Linked DNA regions of Homo sapiens. The protein of the gene in region 1 interacts with the protein of each later gene in a pairwise test. Each region holds a gene or a part of one and is shown on either strand. Other genes may lie near its edges.

What was found.
Region 2: the proteins of MYOM1 (region 1) and FMR1 interact in a two-hybrid assay, tested with the Homo sapiens proteins (one large-scale study listed by IntAct).
Region 3: the proteins of MYOM1 (region 1) and PDE4DIP interact in binary tests that used the Homo sapiens proteins (3 or more experiments, as listed by UniProt).

The regions. Positions count from the first base shown.
Region 1 is NC_000018.10:3,066,243-3,069,996, forward strand, and holds the end of MYOM1 (myomesin-1), read right to left. Parts: intron 1,314-3,754; coding exon 1,020-1,313; 3' UTR 565-1,019; downstream 1-564. UniProt on the Homo sapiens protein: Major component of the vertebrate myofibrillar M band. Binds myosin, titin, and light meromyosin. This binding is dose dependent.
Region 2 is NC_000023.11:147,918,265-147,921,918, reverse strand, and holds part of FMR1 (fragile X messenger ribonucleoprotein 1), read right to left. Parts: intron 1-3,654.
Region 3 is NC_000001.11:149,029,393-149,033,146, reverse strand, and holds the end of PDE4DIP (myomegalin), read right to left. Parts: intron 3,361-3,754; coding exon 3,222-3,360; intron 2,916-3,221; coding exon 2,869-2,915; intron 1,975-2,868; coding exon of another isoform or gene 1,923-1,974; intron 1,204-1,922; coding exon 1,162-1,203; coding exon of another isoform or gene 1,058-1,161; 3' UTR 131-1,057; downstream 1-130. UniProt on the Homo sapiens protein: Functions as an anchor sequestering components of the cAMP-dependent pathway to Golgi and/or centrosomes.

The DNA.
Region 1 (3,754 bases):
CACCCAACAGAAAAAAACACCATGACGATTTTCCTAGAATGGTGTGTGTTATGTGTGTGTGTGTGTGTGTGTGTGTGTGTGTGTGTGTGTGTGGTGCTGGGGTTGGGGAGGACAAAACTTTCTACAACAGCTGCTGCTGGGATGCTGACCCTCAGCAAACCCCTCAGGGAGTGGCAATTTCCACAGCTGGCAGTTCTCTGAGCTCAGAATGAGGCTTCTTATGTACCTTTTATTCTTAGCTGTGGGCCCTTAGTCTCCAGTTCTGGCAGGAGGCGCCTCACACCATCTTATCACATGTAATTGTCACATTACATTCAATTGCCTTGTGTATCTTATTAATGGAATTGGCTTGATTGTGTGGTAAGCCACCAGATGTGCAGTGGCCGTGTAATTTCACACCCCTGAACCTCGTTGAGCTCAAACGACTTATCTGATCATGTTGCAAGGTACTGCTTTCACCAAAAGGAATTTAAATCAGAAGATGTGGCACAAGACGCGTTGAGAAAGAAGCACCAAGAAGCCACCCAACCTAGCAGCAAAACAGCAGGAATTTGAGAAACAGTGTCGGGGAAGAGGACAGACGTGAAAACTGTTTATTCATACAGAGGAGGTTCCAAGCCACGAGGCGCCCGTCGAAAAGCACATCACCTCTGTAACAACACACGAGACACGGCCATGGCTTCACAGCTGCAGCAAATCCCAATTCGCCCCACGACACATTCGTCTGCCCTCTGACCATCATTCAATGTCCCTCCAACTTCATTCAAGTCTTCTCCTTAAAACTGTTTCCTAATCTTCATGCTATGAATGGTATTTTCTTAACACATAATTTTGTAGATAAAGAAAAACAATTAAAGTGTCATTAGTTGGTGCTTTTTTATATGAGTGAAAGACCTGACATTATTTTCCCCTCAAGCCAGAAAATAATAGGGAGGAGAAAGCATGAAGACGTCTCATCCTTAACCCAAACCATTCACACCCAAGTCACACAGGCCGGCTGGCTCTCCTCGCACCTCCGGTCACTTGGCCTTCTTGCCACCTTTCAGGGACTCCAAGGCGGCCATCCTCGCCTCCTCCTCTGGGATGAACACGCTGACGGTGAAGTCGCTGGTCTCCGAGCCATACTTGTTCTTCACAACCAGCCCGTATTTGCCCGAGTCAGCGGTGCTCACGCCGTTGATGGTGAAGTACGCGGTCCTCCCAGCCTCGAACTTGAGGTTGCAGTGGTCGTCTGAGGCCAGGGCCTTCTCGTTCTTCAACCACGACACCTCCGGAGGCGGGTCTCCCCACACGTTGCAAGTGAGATTAAGGGCCTGCAAGACAGGTTTTATGGGAGAGAAGAAGATAAATTAGATGTAATAGACACACTGTCAACAATCTTGCCGGCTGGTGGCTTGGCATGACCAAAGGGAGGATAAGTAAAAGCCTCCCGGACCAGGGTTTAAAGTAGTTCTGTGTATGCACCTGTGTGAGTTACAGTTTGAAATAACATGTGAGGGGATCTCCTCAAGGCCTTTTAATGCTCCTCAAGGCCTTTATATGCTTTCTGGCTTCTGGAATGCTTATTATCAAAAACACACGAAAGAGTTTATGTCTATTCCCCATTTTCACTTTCTCTTTCATAAACATATAGATGCCTTTTGCTCTATTGTGGCATTTTGGGTTCTGTCTCGGTACAGGAATCTCATTGCTGTAATTGCCACCTGCTCACTTTTGCCTTTCATTTGCATCAAAGAGCCGGGCAGCAGAATCACGGCAGCTGCTTCAGATAATGTTACTGATTTTCAAATTCCACCACCCTTATTTTACTTCTCTCCTCAAAGCCCATCCAATCTGCTGCAGTTGCAGTGGTCCCCTACCAAAACGTATTCCTAAAGAAAATATTCCCATCTGTGCTGAAACCTTATTCTAAAAGATCGATATTCTAGATATGTATGTAGACACAAGGTCTACAGTTTTATTTTACCTTACTTTTTTTAATTGAAAAGGATTTAGATAATTGTAAATTCACATGCAGTTGTAAGAAATAATAAAGAAATCCATAAGAAATAATAAAGAGATCTGGTATGCTGTCTACCCAGCTTCCCAGTGGTAACATTTTACAAAACTATAGTAGAATGTCATAACCAGTATATTGACATTGATGCAATCCACCGACCTTATTTAGATTTCTCTAATTTTACTGGTGCTTATTTGTGTTTGTGTGTGTTTCATTCTATTCAATTTACAGAATATTTTCATCACCACAAGAACCCCTTGCGTTGTCCTTTTATACCCACACCCACCTCTCCTCCAACTTCCAAACTCTGTTCCTAATCTCTGGCAACCACTCATCTGTTTTCCATTTCTAAAATTTTGTCAGGTCAAAGATATTATATAAATAGAATCATGCACTGTATAACCTTTCAGAATAACCTTTGTAACTCAGCATAATTACATCCAGATTCATCCAAGATGCTGCATGTATCGATAGTTTATCCCTTGTTCTTGCTGACTAGAATGTCATACTATGTTTATGCCCGTAAGGGTCATCTGAGCTTTTTCCAGTTTTAACTATGATGCACTAAGTTGCTATGAACATTTGTGTACAGGTTTTTATGTGAGCATAAGCTGTCATTTCTCTGGGATAAATGCCCAGGGATACAATTGCTGGAATGTATGATAAATGCATGTTTCATTTTTTCTTTATTTTTTTTAATTAAAAAAATAGAGAATAGAGATGGGGTCTCATTATGTTGACCAGGCTGGTCTTGAACTCCTGGTCTCAAGCAATCTTCCCATCGTGGCCTCCCAAAGTGCTGAGATTACAGGCATGGGCCACCACACCCAGCCCATGTTTTCTTTTTTTTTCCCAGAAATTGCCAAACGGTTTTTCTGAGCGGCTATACAATTTTGGCTTACATTCCCACCAGAATATACAAGTGATTCGGTTTCTCCACAGCCTCCCCACCATTTGTTGTTGTACACCAGCCCACCCAGCTACTATTCTTTATTACAGCAATTCTGATAGGTGTGGTGTGATATTTCATTGTGGTTTTAATGTTCACTTGCCTGGTGGTTAATGATGTTGAATTTACTTCACATTTTAAAATTCCATTCTTGTATTTTTCTCTTACTAAAATCCAGATGTGATAAGGAAAGAACTAGGGCTCACAATGTACAGAGAAAGAACACCCATCTACATAGCTTTCTAAAGGGTCTTACATGATTATTTGTTACCCCTTTTGCAGGTATATCATTTAAAATTGGATAGATTAAGAAATCTGTTTTTCTCCCATCACTAATTAATATTTCTTACTGAATTATCCTACAAATACATTTCAGTCAAAAAAAGAGGAGTCCAATTATTATCCTTAAACTTAATGAGCAGATTAGGTATATGCTTTTGGAAACTGTGATTACTTGTAGTTAAAACTTTTAACAAAATGAAACAAAGTCCCAAACACCCCCTGACAGTCTAGTGGTTAGGAAAAAAAAATGTGAAAAAGAAAAAACAAAACTCCCAAACACCTTAGGCATCATGGAAAACTCTTATCCACACTTCAGATTTGGGTTCTGCATTACAAAGTACTTTCATATACATTCTCTTTCTTAATTCTCAGTACGACCTAGAGAGTTGTATATTTTTAACCTTATTAGGTGAGGAAAATGGAAAAGACAGTTGAGGAACAAAAGAACCCCTGCAGTGGCTGAGCTTAAAATCAACCGTGATCATATTTTCCAACCATGAGGAAATGCAGTTGAATGAAACCTA
Region 2 (3,654 bases), on another chromosome or scaffold:
ACGTTAAATTAACTTGTGAGCTTAAAGATAGTTTTTGTTTTTAGTTAAATTTTACAGTGATACCAAACGTTTTATGTGTTTATGAATAAAATAGAACTTCAAATGAAGGTCAGTTTTTGAAGATCATTTTATTCATTAAGCACATCTATATTGCCACCTTGTATGTGCTATACCCTAGAGATAAACATAGCTAAAACACTAAACATGAGAAAAAATTCTCCACAGATTTCAACATCTCGAAAAATAGACAAGTATACTGGAAATTACAATGTGGTAGTGAGTGCAAAGCTGGACGTACATTTTAGGTAGAATTACTGAAAACTAAGAAAATTGTTCCAGAACCATATATCAGCCATATATTGTAACCTACCTTTCTCTCCTTAAAATCTTAGAATACCAATAGTCAATGATTAAATATAACCTCAAATCTATCTATCTATCTATATATATATATATACGCACACACAAATATACTAAACTTTCTTTAACAATCATATGCTGCAAACAACACTAAAAAGTCCAGTTACTAGAGTTGAATTAAGTTCTCAATCTCACAGTACTTGTAGAAAAAATATATAAAGTCCAGAGGTTTAGATCTTTTAAATCTGATGACACAATTGTTAGTAATCTACACAAAGACAGACAAAATAGCTAATTATCAAGAATTCTTTAATCAGCATGCTGTCTGTAACTTTATAAAATTAACCTTTTAATAGGTACAGAAAAGGAAGGTTTTTGTTTTGTTTTGGACAATTAGAAGAATAGGACAAAGCATAAAGAAACCCAAAGGCTTTATATCTTAATTTATTTTAAAAGGGCTTGGGGAGATTTAAGCTTCTTACTCAAATTTATTCTGTATGTTTCTCCCCTTCAGTGGTTTCTCCCTGCCTGCAGGACCATAGCCAAACTCCTTCTCCCGCTGTAAAAGGCTCTACAGGAGCTGTCCTCCCCAGCCCCACCACTTCTTCAACTTTATCTTTCATATCCTTAGAATTTGTGACCCAACAATGCTAAACTACTTGTGCCATACTCTGTAGTTTCTGGGCCTCTCTCCATTCCTTCTTTCCTATTGTCCTTCCCCTCTTTTTACATAGCTATCTCTTACTGGTCTTCCAGATTTCAGTTCAGATGTCAACTTCAACGGGAGAACTGAGAAGTCTAGGTTAAATTCCTGTCCTCTGCATTCTCATAGCATCCTATGCTTATCCCTACAATAAACTTACCCCACTCTATTATTATAGCCCATTTTCTCACTAACAGTAAGTTTTCTGAGGGTGGTGTCAGGTTTTACTTCATTTACGGATATACTGCAGAGTGTCTAGTATGAACTCAGTGAGTACTTATCAAATAGATCATTGCCTAAGAGGTTCCTATCCCAGCCTTAGGGAAAAGGTATGTGTGTGGGTGATGGTGGTAGGTTGATAAGACAAAGGAAAACATACTGAAGAAGGTGAGGTTCCTACTGACCCCTTAAAGGATAAGGAAGTACTAGCTAAACAAAAGAGAGTGGAGGATGGAGAGGCATTCCACTAAGCCTACGGGGCAGCAGGCATAAAGGTTTAGACAGTGAGAAACAGCTGGGTTGTGGCAGAAATAATAAATCCTTTGTCAACAAAGAAGCCAAGACAATTCAATGGGGAAAGTATAGTGTTTTCAAAAAATGAAGCTGGGACAAGTGGACACCCACATGCAAAAAGAATACGTTTCAACCTTTACCTCATACTGCATACAAAAAAAAATCAATGAATATGCATCAAAGACCTAAATATAAGAGCTAAAATTATAAAACTCTTGGGAGAAAACACAGTAGTAAATCCTCATGACGCTGAATGTTTGATATCCATATTGGATAGTGAGACAATAACTAGTTCGGATTAAGACCATTCTCTAACTTCGGTGTCCTCAGTAAATGGCATAGTTTCTGGTATATAGAACATGCCCGATACATGTTTTTAAAAACAAATGGTTCAATGCAGATGTCTTTGTAAACAAATATGTCTTCAAAGGCCTATGATATAAAAAGATTATTTTAAAAAATGAAACTTCCCAAAATATCAAATTAAAGCATATGGAGTGAAGCATTAATTAGCTGCTCTTAAGAAAAACTATGGAAGCTGAGACAGGGCCCTGGAAAACACTGATACAGAAGCAACTTAAACAGAGATACCAAGCTTCTTCAATAATGCTTAAATAAAAGTAAAGCTACGCTAAAAGAAAGCTTCCTTGTAAGATCAAGGTGGACTATAATGGCATCCATATGTTGTGCTATACCCAAGGTGGCTAAATAATTATTTTTAAGTTAAGCATGGGTATATACCCTTATAGTTAGTTACTGGTTCAAAAGGGGAGAAATCAACATTTTCTTATCATTTTGATCTTGCTTATTTTTACTCAGCTATATTTAAATGACCAATATTTTCTACAGCATATTTTGAGAACTCTAGCTTAATACTGCCAATGATATTTTAGAATTATTAGATTTCATAAGGGTGCATGCCCCAGTGCTTCAAGGGATTGTTTGCCTCACTATTACTTCAACAGAGAGGCCTAATTTTGAGTTAGGTTGCAGGAACTGGTCACTCTTAGGCTCTTATTTCTATAGGTCGTAAAAATTATGGAGAATGGGAAAGAGGACTCTCCTGGCCCCGATTTCTCCCTTGTCTTTACAGGATGGCTAATAACAAATTAACAGTTTGCTTTTTGGGGGTGCTATTAGATTATTAACTAAAACTAAGACACCTATTAGGAAGTAACTGACCCCTTATTTACAAAGAAGGGCCACTGCTTCTGTGTTCATCCTTGTTTAAGGTTTCATAATGTTTATACATCTTGGCAGTAATTAACATTAGTTCCTTACTGTATATTACATGCTAAAAATGTTGTCCTTTAATCAGCTATTAGAACCTTGTTACAGCTAGGTAAAGAAATGTTCTAAGTAAATCAAGTATCTACCCAAGACTACTGCCCTTGTCTAAAACTATGCCATCTACCATAGTAGCCACGGGTCATGTGCGACTACTTACATTAAAATTAAATAAAATTAAAATCAGTCTCCAATTCACTCTTGCAACATGTCAAGTGCTCAATAGCTACATATGGCTTAAGGGCTACTGTAGTAGACAGACCCGATTTAAAACATTTACAAATGTTGGAGACTGTTTTCAGACTCATCATAAAAGCACTATAATATCAGCCTTATTACTACATTGCTATATTTTGTTTTTTTCTCTTTGCCTAAAAGTTATTGCCCAGTTGAATCATACTTATCTACATTTGCTTATTTCCTAAAATCAAATATTCTCTCAAAGGAGGAAGATCTGCAAGTGCTGTAGCTATTCAAAAAAAAAAAAAAAAAAAAAAAAAGCTTTTGCAGGCTCTGAATGCATTTCCGGATGATTTCCGGATGTAGTGTCAGAGTGTCAGAAATGGTTTGAGTAATCATCAGAGCCCAACAGGGCCACTGCCTTTGAGTTAATGAGGCTTATCTGTAAATGGATGTTTGCATGACTTTTTCAAAATCAGTCATTTTAAGTGAATACAGAAGGTATATAATACCTTTGGTTGCTGCTTTAATAAGTGGAATAAAAGAAACTCATAGGTTACGTTTGGTCTACACTCGCGTGAAGGACAAATACCTCCTGTGAATTCTAAGGT
Region 3 (3,754 bases), on another chromosome or scaffold:
CCTTAATCTTTTAAAGTTAGAGTTCAAGCATTAGACTATATGCTTCTTAAACACAGTTTGTCTTTCCCATTTTCTCTTTCCAGTTCTTTATACTGTCAAGGGATTGGTGCAGAAATGGGAAACAAAGCAGTGAAAGAAAAACTATTTATTTCTTTATACACATTTTGCTTTAACAATCACCAAAAAGACTTTCATTTTCTGTCACCCACCCTGTCCACCAGTTATGTTGGCCTTCAATATATGGCGTTAGCAACATATATAAATCTATATCATATATTTATACACACAAACACATTCTACCAGCACTGTGAAGACACAGACTAGGCTTTACTAGGCTTGGGGCCTCTCCCATGCCACTTAAAAATGAGCACAGGTTTGCTCTATGCAAGAATTTCAACAGAGTTGGTCTGGCCATCAGTCTGCAATTTCCCCGAGATAAGATAGGGTGACAAAATGGGACAGCAACTTTGAAGTGAGGTCAGTCCAATTTGGATATCATAGAAGAAAAGAAATAGGATGTGCTAGGTTAAGCCTGAGATGGTATCTGGGAAGTCACCACATTCATGATGTGAACTCAAAGAACACAGGTGCTACAGTGCAGACCAAGGCCCAGCCTGACTCGACCCAACAGGGTCAGGTGTGGATCTGTGAGTAGTGCTCACTGAGCCCCCGCCAGCAGTGTCCGGCAGGGCACCGCTGCTCAGTAGTGTGCTTTTAGAACCTGCCAGAGGAGCTCCAGCATTGGGACCACGTGCCCCTTTCATCGGAATCAGGGTCCTATATTCACTGAGTTTTCCATCTCAGGACAGCTGATGAGGCAAGAAATGTGCTCTTGCTAGTTCCCAAGCTGCTGGGGCTGTTGAGAGGCAGGATCACAAAACCTTCTGTGCAAACTACGCATCTTTTTCTTAGTGCTGGGCCAAGTGGACCTTGGCTAATCGTATTCCATAGCCGTCAGAAAGGCTTTCTGCCTTTCTCCCAGCTCCACCAGGATACATCTCTGACTCCCTCTTCTGGACCCTCCCGTGGACTTGGAGGAATGAGGCCCAGATGCTCCTCAGCAGATAGGTAGCTGCACAAAAGGGGGACAGGCCCACCTTTCCTGCTGTTTTAAGGACTTCTGGTGGCTGCGCTTCTTGCATGGTTCCTGGAAGGCAAGGGTCACAAGGCTGGAGTACATGGCAGAGCCCTTAGGGATTTCACCTGCAGACAAACATAAAACAAACCAAATCAGTGTATATTGCCAGGCCCTACTGATGGCTACCTGAAGCTGGAGTGAGAGCTACGTGGTGACCAAAGCCAGGAGCACGGTGAGAGCCAGTTAAGAGGATGAGCTAAGAGCATGCGCTGCAGTCTGGAGGAGCAACAGGTGCCCGAGGTTAGGGGGAGCCTCCCCACCTCCCTGTGTGCTGAGATCCCTGCTCCAATTCACTGCACACTGGGTGGCTGGATCCTACCACTCCCCCTTCAGGGGCCAGGTGACTCTCCAAATCACTTTGTCTCAGCAGAAAGAGGCCTTTGCCATGTCCACCCAAGAAAGAAGTGCTTAGCATGAAACATGCACATATAGAAACAGCCTGTTTGTAGGAAGAAGAGGACATTTTGCTGGGAAGCCCTCTGTTAAGTTTATGTCCAGTTGCCATAATGAGGGTGTGGAGGGGCCAAGTCCACAGGGACCTCAGAGCTCAACTAAGTCCAGTTCCATCTTTGACAGATGAGGGTGCAGCAGTCTCACAGAGACTAAGGGACAAGCCAAAGCCACACAGCAGTTAGTGATAAGCCAGGGATTAGAACCGAGGCCTCGGGTCCTTTCCAGTGATCTATGGGAGGTGGAGGGGAAAGCTTCCACACTGGAGAAAGCCAGTGGATACTAGAGATTTTTGGGTTACCTTTTAGTGGATACTAGAGACTTTTTGGATTACCTTTTCTGGGACAGGAATAAGGCTTTACAGAGGCAATCCTGTAAGTGCTGCTCTAAAGAGGCTCAGGAAAGAGAAGAATTATCAGAGAAAAACAAAAGGGAATTAGTGAAAAAATAAAAAAAAGAGCAAGTTAAACTGGCCCAAGTCATTTTCACACTATGGAGATCAACATTCTCTCAGGTTATGGATTAGAAACATTTCTAGGAATATGCTGAATTGCTTATGGCAAAGCTTTGATGTCCATGTTAAAAGGTTTAGTTTCTGATTTTTAACCATTTCATATACCTCAAGTTTTTCTTCAAAGCACTTCCTAGGGAATGATTAACACTTAGTGTTTTAAGTAAATGTAGATAATGTCTGGTACATATATAACATTTTTTCCCTGAAGGTTCAGTTGTTATTTATTAACAAATTCGCTTTTAGACCAATGAGACCCAACAGATCTCTTTTGTCATGTTACTTAAAGATATAGCAAAATCAAATTGCTGTTCTTAACCCGGGAATGTGCAGTGAAATCAGTTTATTAGGTTGCAAATTGCTTTTACTTTTTCATGAAGAGTAGAACACATAACTGGCCTCAAGATCCCTCTACTAGAAGCTCATTCAGAGGCAGACTCCCGAATGTCTAATGACTTCAAGAGTCAGCTGAATTGCATTTCTCCAGTCTCTGAACTTGGCCTCAAAGAAGAAAAATTGGAGTAAAAAGGAGAGATGATGACAATGTGAGAGTGAACCAAGATACAGGGGCAGGAGCTGACGGGGTGGGAGGGTGATGGGGACAGAAACTAGCAGGATGCTCACTGAGGACCTGTGATCTTGCAAGTGGACCCCAAGTCTTCTCCTGGAAGGCCAAAGCAGGCCAAGGGTCACCTACAAGATCTGCTAACGGATGGTGATGGGTGGGGGACAGGCTTGGTGCCTCTGACTGGTGCAGTAGTTTCCTTACCTCTAAGTTAGTCCTTGCCTTCTTTAAAACATCATGTGTTCTGGTTACTGAAACAACAAAAGAGCACCACAGAGTAGAAACCACCAGCAGAAATTAACCCTACTTGCTTAGCATGAGAATTCTAAAGCATTTATTTCTTTCTGGCTATTCAGCTTGGAGTCTCCTTCTATCCACCCCCTGTCCTCCCCTCCCTCTGCAGCCACAATTGCTCCTGGTACAGGAGGTTTGGGGACATCAAATCAGTCTCAACTCCCAACATCCCCAAGCCCCCCTGGTCACTGCTCATCTGCAGCACAAGTGGGGCATCGGGAAGACTGCCTGTTTCTTCCCCCATTCCCTCTCAGGGAACCTACGCTGGCTGACGATGAACTGCTCCATGCTCTCCTTCTGCTGGTTGGCGTTCTTCAGATGCTCAGTTGTGCTCTGAAGGAGTCGCTCCTGTTTGGATACTTTGGTTCTCAGTTCCAGAAGTTCCCTTTCTGTTGATTCTCCCTGGATAAGAGGAACAGACTCTTACTGACCAGGCAGAAGGCCTAAAGCACCCTGTGCTTTGTGGCTCTTTCCAATTCAAAGAAGGATTCTACAGTCTTCTCAACTCTCTTGAACTGGATTTCCTCCTTCACAGCCTCGGATACCTCCAGCTGAGGACAGTTCAGGATGAGGCCATTAGGCAGGAATAATGAGACTCTGGAATTCCCCATGCAGACTAGCACAGGCCTACACACCTGTAGCTTAAGAGAACCTCGCCTCAGGCTGGTATCAAACTCCCAACTCTGAAGAGGACCTTGCTTTAGTCCTGATATCAGTTCTGTCACTCTCCCTTCACAGGTAAGATTGAGAGTTCAGAAGTGTTATGCTGGGGTGAGAGATCTGGACTCAGGGAAGT